Homo sapiens: one gene and its partner. The protein of the gene in region 2 purifies or fractionates together with the protein of the main gene of each other region. This does not show direct contact. Each region holds a gene or a part of one and is shown on either strand. Other genes may lie near its edges.

Region 1 (3,651 bases), on a different chromosome or scaffold from region 2:
ATCCCCAAAACTCAATGAACACTCCATATTGCCTGTCAGTTTCTCCAACGTTTCCATTCTCTAGTGACTACAGACGGTCCCTGATGTATGATGGTTCAACTTATAATTTTGACTTTATGGTGGTATGAAAGCCATAAACATTCAGTAGAAACTGTACTTCTCAGCTGGGTGCAGTGGCTCACCACACATGTAATCCCAGCACTTTGGGAGGCCAAGGTGGGAGGATCCCTTGAGTCCAGTTCAAGATCAGCCTGGGCAACACAGAGTGACCTCATCTCTATTAAAAATATTTTTAAAAAAATAAAAAAGAGGCCAGGCACTGTGGCTCATGCCTGTAATCCCAGCACTTTGGGAGGCCGAGGCAGGCGGATCACCAGGTCAAGAGTTCAAGACCAGCCTGTCCAACATGATGAAACCCCGTCTCTACTAAAAATACAAAAAAAATCAGCCAGGCATGGTGGCGTGCGCCTGTAATCCCAGCTACTTGGGAGGCTGAGGCACGAGAATCGCTTGAACCCGGGAGGCAGAGGTTGCAGTGAGCTGAGATCACGCCACTGCAGACAGAGTGAGACAGAGTGAGACTCTGTCTTAAAAAAAGAAAAAAAAAAAAAAAAAGAAATCGTACTTCTCGAGATGCTGGATAGCAACAGAGAGTTGCTGCTCCAAGTTAGCCAAGAAGTTATCTTGAACTTCTGAACTTATGATGGGTTTACCAGGATGGGATGTAACTACACCATAAATCAAAAAGCATCTGTACTGCAGCAAATATTCCCCATCCCAAAACCACTTCTAACTCTGAATTCTGTCCACTTCTATTTTCACTATCACCACTCTATTCCATGCCACACTCACTACTTAACTAGATTCCTACAATAGCTTTCTTAACTAGCTTTTCTGTCTCTGATCTTGTTTCTCTTCACTGTGGACAAAATAACTGCTATAAAAGAATCCTCAAATTTTACAGTACATAGCATCAACCTGGGATATTCTTTAATACATAAATGTCTGAGTCTCCAATGCCCCTCCCAAGAGTCTGTTTCAGTAGAGAATGGCTAATTGGATTTTCTGATGCAAGTGTTCTCTGGATCTGAAAAACACATCTTTAAAATTTAAATCAGACAAAGCATAGTGGCTCATGCTTGTAATCCCAGCACTTTGAAAAACCAAGACCGGCAGATCACTTGAGGTCAGGAGTTCGAGACCAGCCTTGCCAACATGGTGAAACCCCATCTCTACTAAAAATTAAAAAAACAAACAAACAAAAAACAGTAAATAAAAATTTTTAAAAAATGAATAAATAAATCCAATCGCATCACTTTTTTTTTTTGACACAGGGTCTTGCTCTGTTGCCCAGGCTGGAGTACAGTGATACAATCTTGATTCACTGCAACCTTCACTTCCCAGGCTCAAGCAATCCTCCCACCTCACCAATTAGTGGCCCCTGCTCACCAATTTGTCTTTATTTCTAATACCTATCCTGTCCCAACAATGCTCCAGTCACACCTAATTACTCCCAAGTTCCCAAACGCTCTCTATCTTCTCTATCTGGGCTTTTTCTCTTTTTAAAAAAATTTTGGGCCAGGCGCAGTAGCTCACGCCTGTAATCCCAGCACTTTGGGAGGCCGAGGTGGGTGGATCACGACGTCAAGAGATGGAGACCATCCTGGCCAACATGGTGGAACCCCGTCTCTACTAAAAATACAAAAATTAGCTGAGCGTGGTGGTGCACACCTGTAGTCCCAGCTACTCGGGAGGCTGAGGCAGGAGAAATCACTTGAACCAGGCGGGGCGGAGGCTGCAGTGAGCCGAGATTGCACCACCGCACTCCAGCCTGGCAACGGAATGAGACTCCGTCTTAAAAAACAAAACAAAACAAAACAAAAAAAATGGGGGGCACGGTGGCTCATGCCTGTAATCCCAGCACCTTGGGAGGCCGAGGTGGGTGGGTCACCTGAGGTCAGGAGTTCGAGACCAGCTTGACCAACATGGTGAAACCCCATCTCTACTAAAAACACAAAAATTAGGCGGGCGTGGTGGCATGCGCCTATAATCCCAGCTACTCGGGAGGCTGAGGCAGGAGAATCGCTTGAACCCAGGAGGCAGAGGTTGCAGTGAGCTGAGATCGAGCCATTGCACTCCAGCCTGGGTAACAGAGCAATACTCCATCTCAATAAAAAAAAAAAAAACTTAATTTTTTTTTTTTTTTGGCTGGGTATGGTGGCTCATGCTTGTAATCTCAGCACTTCAGGAGGTCAAGGCAGGAGGACTGGTTGAACCCAGCAGTTTGAGGTTGCAGTGAGCTGTGACCCCACAACTGCACTCCAGCCTGGGTGACTGGGCAACAGAGTGAGACCCTGCCTCTTTTTTAAAAAAAAAAAAAAAAAAAAAAGAGGGCTGGGCACAGTGGCTCACACCCGTAATCCACCTGTAATCCCGGTACTTTGGGAAGCTGAGGCGGACGGATCACCTGAGTTCACGAGTTCATGACCAGCCTGGCCAACATGGTAAAACCCCGTCTCTACTACAAATACAAAAATTAGCTGGGTGTGGTGGTGTGCACCTGTAATCCCAGCTACTTGGGAAGCTGAGACAGGAGAATCGCTTGAACCCGGGAGGTGGAGGTTGCAGCGAGCTAAGATCATGCCACTGCACTCTTGCCTGGGTTACAGAGCAAGACTCCATCTCAAGCAAAAAAAAAAAAAGAAAAAGAAAGTTTTTAATTTTTGTTGAGTACACAGTAGGTATATATTTATGTAGTACATGAGTTTTGTTTTTGTTTTTGTTTTTTGAGACAGAGTTTCCCTCTTGTTGCCCAGGATGAAGTGCAATGGCACAATCTTGGCTCACTGCAACCTCCACCTCCTGGGTTCAAGTGATTCTCCTGCCTCAGCCTCCTGAGTCGCTGGGATTACAGGCACCTGCCACCACGCCTACTTAATTTTTCTTATTTTCAGTAGAGACTGAAAATGGGTTTCGCCATGTTGGCCAGGCTAGTCTCGAACTCCTGACCGCAGGTGATTCACCCGCCTCGGCCTCCCAAAGTGCTGGGATTACAGGTGTGAGCCACCAAGCCCGGCCCATGAGATATTTTTATATAGATATACAATGTGTAATAATCATGTAAGGGTAAATGGGGTATGGATCGCCTCAAGCATTTATCCTTTGTTACAAACAATTCAATTACGTTCTTTTATTAATATATATATATACTTTTTTTTTGAGATGGAGTCTTGCCCTGTCACCAGGCTGGAGTGCAGTGGCTTGATTTCGGCTCACTGCAACCTCTGCCTCCCGGATTCAAGCGATTCTCCTGCCTCAGCCTCCTGAGTAGCTGGGACTACAGGGGCGTGCAAGCACGCCCAGCTAATTTTTGTATTTTTAGTAGAGACGAGATTTCACCATGTTGGCCAGGATGGTCTCAATCTCTTGACCTTGTTATCCACCCACCTCAGCCTCCCGAAGTGCTGGGATTACAGGCATGAGCCACTGTGCCCAGCCAATAGTTATTTTTAAATGTACAATAAGTTACTGGTTGACTGTAGTCACCATGTTGCAAATATGAAATTCTAGATCTTAGTCATTTTTATTTTTTAAATTTTCTGAGACAAGAGTCTTGCTCTGTTGCCCAGGCTGGAGTACAGTGGTGTGATT
Region 2 (3,651 bases):
TCCACAAGACAACCCCTCCCCTCAGAGCCACAGCCAACTCCTGGGTGGTGAAAAAACAAAACCCTCTGCAAAAAACAAAAACAAAAATAAAGCCCACATCTGTCACTGCCCTCCTGCCCCAATTAGCCCCAGCCTTACAGCTTCTTCAGTGTTGAGGAATGGCACAGTCTGTTCACACACACCCACTTCTACAGAACACCTTCCTGTCCAGCCCCAGGCGCATGCGTCCCCTACCTGAAAGCCTGGGTCTGGCAGGGCAGAGGAGTCCCAATAGTCTGGGATGCTCTTCGGGCCTGGAAACTTGGTATTGCTACAAAAATGTAAACAAAAACACGTAGACATTTTATTCTTACACAAAGCAAATATACCATAGGTGGTCTCTGCTAGCCAATATCACCAGTCTTGAGTCTCAGCACATCATATTTCAAGAGCAGGTAGAAGGCAAGGAAGAATGTTAGCACGATATTCACAACATGAGAGCACTTTTATCTTTGCCTATGTAGCCAAACTCCAAACAGTCCTGAGAGATCTATTTCTCGCCTGTGTCCCAACTACCACACAAAAGGGATAAAAGGGATGGAGTACATGGTTAAAGGAGCACACACACAGCCATAAACCTTTATCCACAATTCTGAAATTCTAAGAGCTCTAAAGACATTTTTTTAAGGCCTCGATGAGGTATAATTGACATTTTAAAACTTTTTATACAGCTCAGGAAAAGCAGGAGAAAATATGAAATAAAACATTTTTTGAAAAACATAAAAGTGACATCAAAAGTCATTTGGCAGTAGAAATTTGACTGAAGTTAGTAAGAGGCCACTGTGATCTGTATCTATCCTTCTTAAACTGACTATGCATATTGTTTACTGCAGAAATATTAATGTGCTAAAATACAGAGTGTCACGTGATACAAGCATCACATTATCTTTCTAAAAATTAAATAAAAGCAGTTCAAAAGACATATGGATCAAGGGTTCAGGAACAAGGACTGTGAAACTATAATTACAAATCATTCCTATTAAGTTTCAGAATACACTGTTCTTTCTAAATAGATCTACCTTCTGTTTCTGCTGGCATGAAACATATACCTTCATCCTAAGCCTCAAAGAACTCCCACAAATAACTTTCCTGGGAAAATGGCACAGTTCAAAAATAACTAAGCAAGGTCCTACCAGCAAGAATCAGCCAAAAACAGACCCACAAAGACTTAAGATGCTGAAATTATCAGAGAGATTACAAAACAATTATTCTTCCTATGTTTAAAGGAAAAAAAAAGACAAACTTTAAAAACATATGCAAGGAACAGGAAACTATAAAAAGACCTGGAAGATCTAAAAAAGAACCAAATAGAACTTACAGAATTAAGTACAATCTTTAATAATAAAAGTGTAGTGGACAGGCTTAATAGCAGATTAGACCAGCTGGAGGAAGAATCAGTGAGCTGAAACATATGTGAAATGAAATTGTCCAGAATGTGGCCCACAGCAACAAGGAAATGGAAAATGCAGGAAAGAAGTTGAGACATGGAGAACAGTGAGAACTTGAATATGATCAGAACCTAAGTGAAGCTCTAGGAGAGGAGAGACAAGACAGTGGAGGCGATTTTCAAAGAGAACTGATGAGATGCACCTATCCGCAGCTTAAGAAGCCCAAAGAATCTCAACCATGATAAATAAAAGCACATACTTAGATACACTTTAGTGAGGATGCCTACCTCCAAGACAAACAGAAGCTCTTAAAAGTAGCCAAAGGAAAAAAGAGTGATTACTGTCAAAGAAGCACCTGTTAGACCAACAGGCAATTTCTCAAAAGCAACAGTGGAAGCCAGAATACAGTGGAGTGATCATCACAATGATCCAAGAGAAAATCCCTACAACCCAAAATTCTATACCCAGTGAAAATTTCCTTCAAGATTGATGGCAAAATAAATACATGTTGGCCAGGCGCAGTGGCCCACGCCTGTAATCCCAGCACTTTGGGAGGCCGAGGTGGGCAGATCACTTGAGATCAGGAGTTCAAGACCAGCCTGACCAACATAATGAAACCCCATCTCCACCAAAAATACAAAAATTAGCCGGGCATGGTGGCGCACGCCAGTAGTCCAAGCTACTCAGGAGGCTGAGACAGGAGAATCGCTTGAACTCAAGAGGCGGAGGTTGCAGTGAGCCAAGATCATGCCACTGCACTCTGGCCTGGGCGACAGTGCGACTCCATCTCAAAATACATACATACATACATGCATACATACATACGTACATACATATTCAGACAAACCAAAAACAGTTTTCCAACAAATCTTCATCGAAGGCAGCCTTGTCCAACCTGCAGCCCGCAGGCTGCATGTAACCCAGGACAGCTTTGAATGTGACCCAACACAAATCTGTAAACTTTCTTAAAACATTATGAGATTTTCTTGTGGTTTTTATTCTTTTAGTTCAGCTATCGTTAGTGTTAGTGTATTTTATGTGTGGACCAATTCTTTTTCCTCTAATGTGGCCTGGGAAAGCCAAAAGATTGGACACCCCTGATCTAAGGTAATCTGAAAGGACAAAGTGGTAAAAATGTGAGTAAATTTAATGAAACTTTCAGAGTATAAAATAATGGTGCCTCTTGAGGTTTAAAAAAAGTTGAGAGGAAGGCAAATGGAAGAAAAGATAGGAGGGCAAAGATATTGATTTACTTGTACTTAAGTGAAGAACATGTAGTTTCTACCATAGCCTTTAAAATATACATATACACAAAAGAAGGTAAGAAAAGAAAAAATAAGACCCAATCACATGAATGAAACATTTTCATAGAGGATGGGCAACATGGTGAGACCCTGTCTCCACAACAAATAAAAAAATTAGCTGGGCATGGTGGCGCATGCCTGTGGTCCCAACTACTTGGGATGCTGAGGTGGGAGGATTGCTTGAGCCCGGGAGGTGGAAGGTGCAATAAGCCGTGATCAGGTCACTGCATTCCATCCTGGGTGACAGAGTGAGACCCTGTCTCATAAATAAATAAATAAATAAATACATAAATAAATTTTACATGACACTCCTGTATTATGACTTCTGAATATGGACATTACATTTTATGACCTCATTAATTGTGTAAACAGAAAAGTTGTTTCTGAAAGTGATCTACCCTCAGATTCCCAATTGGCCATGCAGGCCCAGGCAGACTTGCTTACTGGAGTTAATGACAACCAGCTGCTGGCACATGGGTCAGAGAGAAGAACTGAACACTTCATCTGTGTGAACAGTGTGTGACACTCCGCTTACAGGAGACCCCAAATCACCCATATCTTAGTCTGAATCACTTTTAGTTTGGACATTTGGCATCTTCTTGTGGCCCCCTAAAAACTAAATTAGAATAAGAGAGATCTACTCTCAGAAAGCAGAGAGACTTTTCCAAACCTTGTCTAGGGTAGGCTTTGTATAGGAAAAGAATAAAAAATGACTTCCAGAAATAGGAGGGTCATAATCAACCAAAACTCTAAATCCAGAATCAGTAAGACACTGATACATTTAACTAAAATAATAAGAGATATATATTTATGGTAAAATACTTCACAGGCAAAGTCAAAAGGCAAACAACAAACTAAGAGAAAATATTTGCCATTTATATAACAAAACGAGGGCCAACCTCCCTAATAGATAAAAGGCT

Evidence for each region. The genes of interacting proteins can lie anywhere in the genome.
Region 1: the proteins of PARP12 (region 2) and CASC3 purify together in Homo sapiens (co-immunoprecipitation; one large-scale study listed by IntAct). This does not show direct contact.

Annotation. Positions count from the first base shown.
Region 1 is NC_000017.11:40,143,397-40,147,047, reverse strand, and holds part of CASC3 (protein CASC3), read right to left. Parts: intron 1-3,651. UniProt on the Homo sapiens protein: Required for pre-mRNA splicing as component of the spliceosome. Core component of the splicing-dependent multiprotein exon junction complex (EJC) deposited at splice junctions on mRNAs.
Region 2 is NC_000007.14:140,028,379-140,032,029, forward strand, and holds part of PARP12 (protein mono-ADP-ribosyltransferase PARP12), read right to left. Parts: intron 311-3,651; coding exon 235-310; exon of another isoform or gene 234-234; intron 1-233.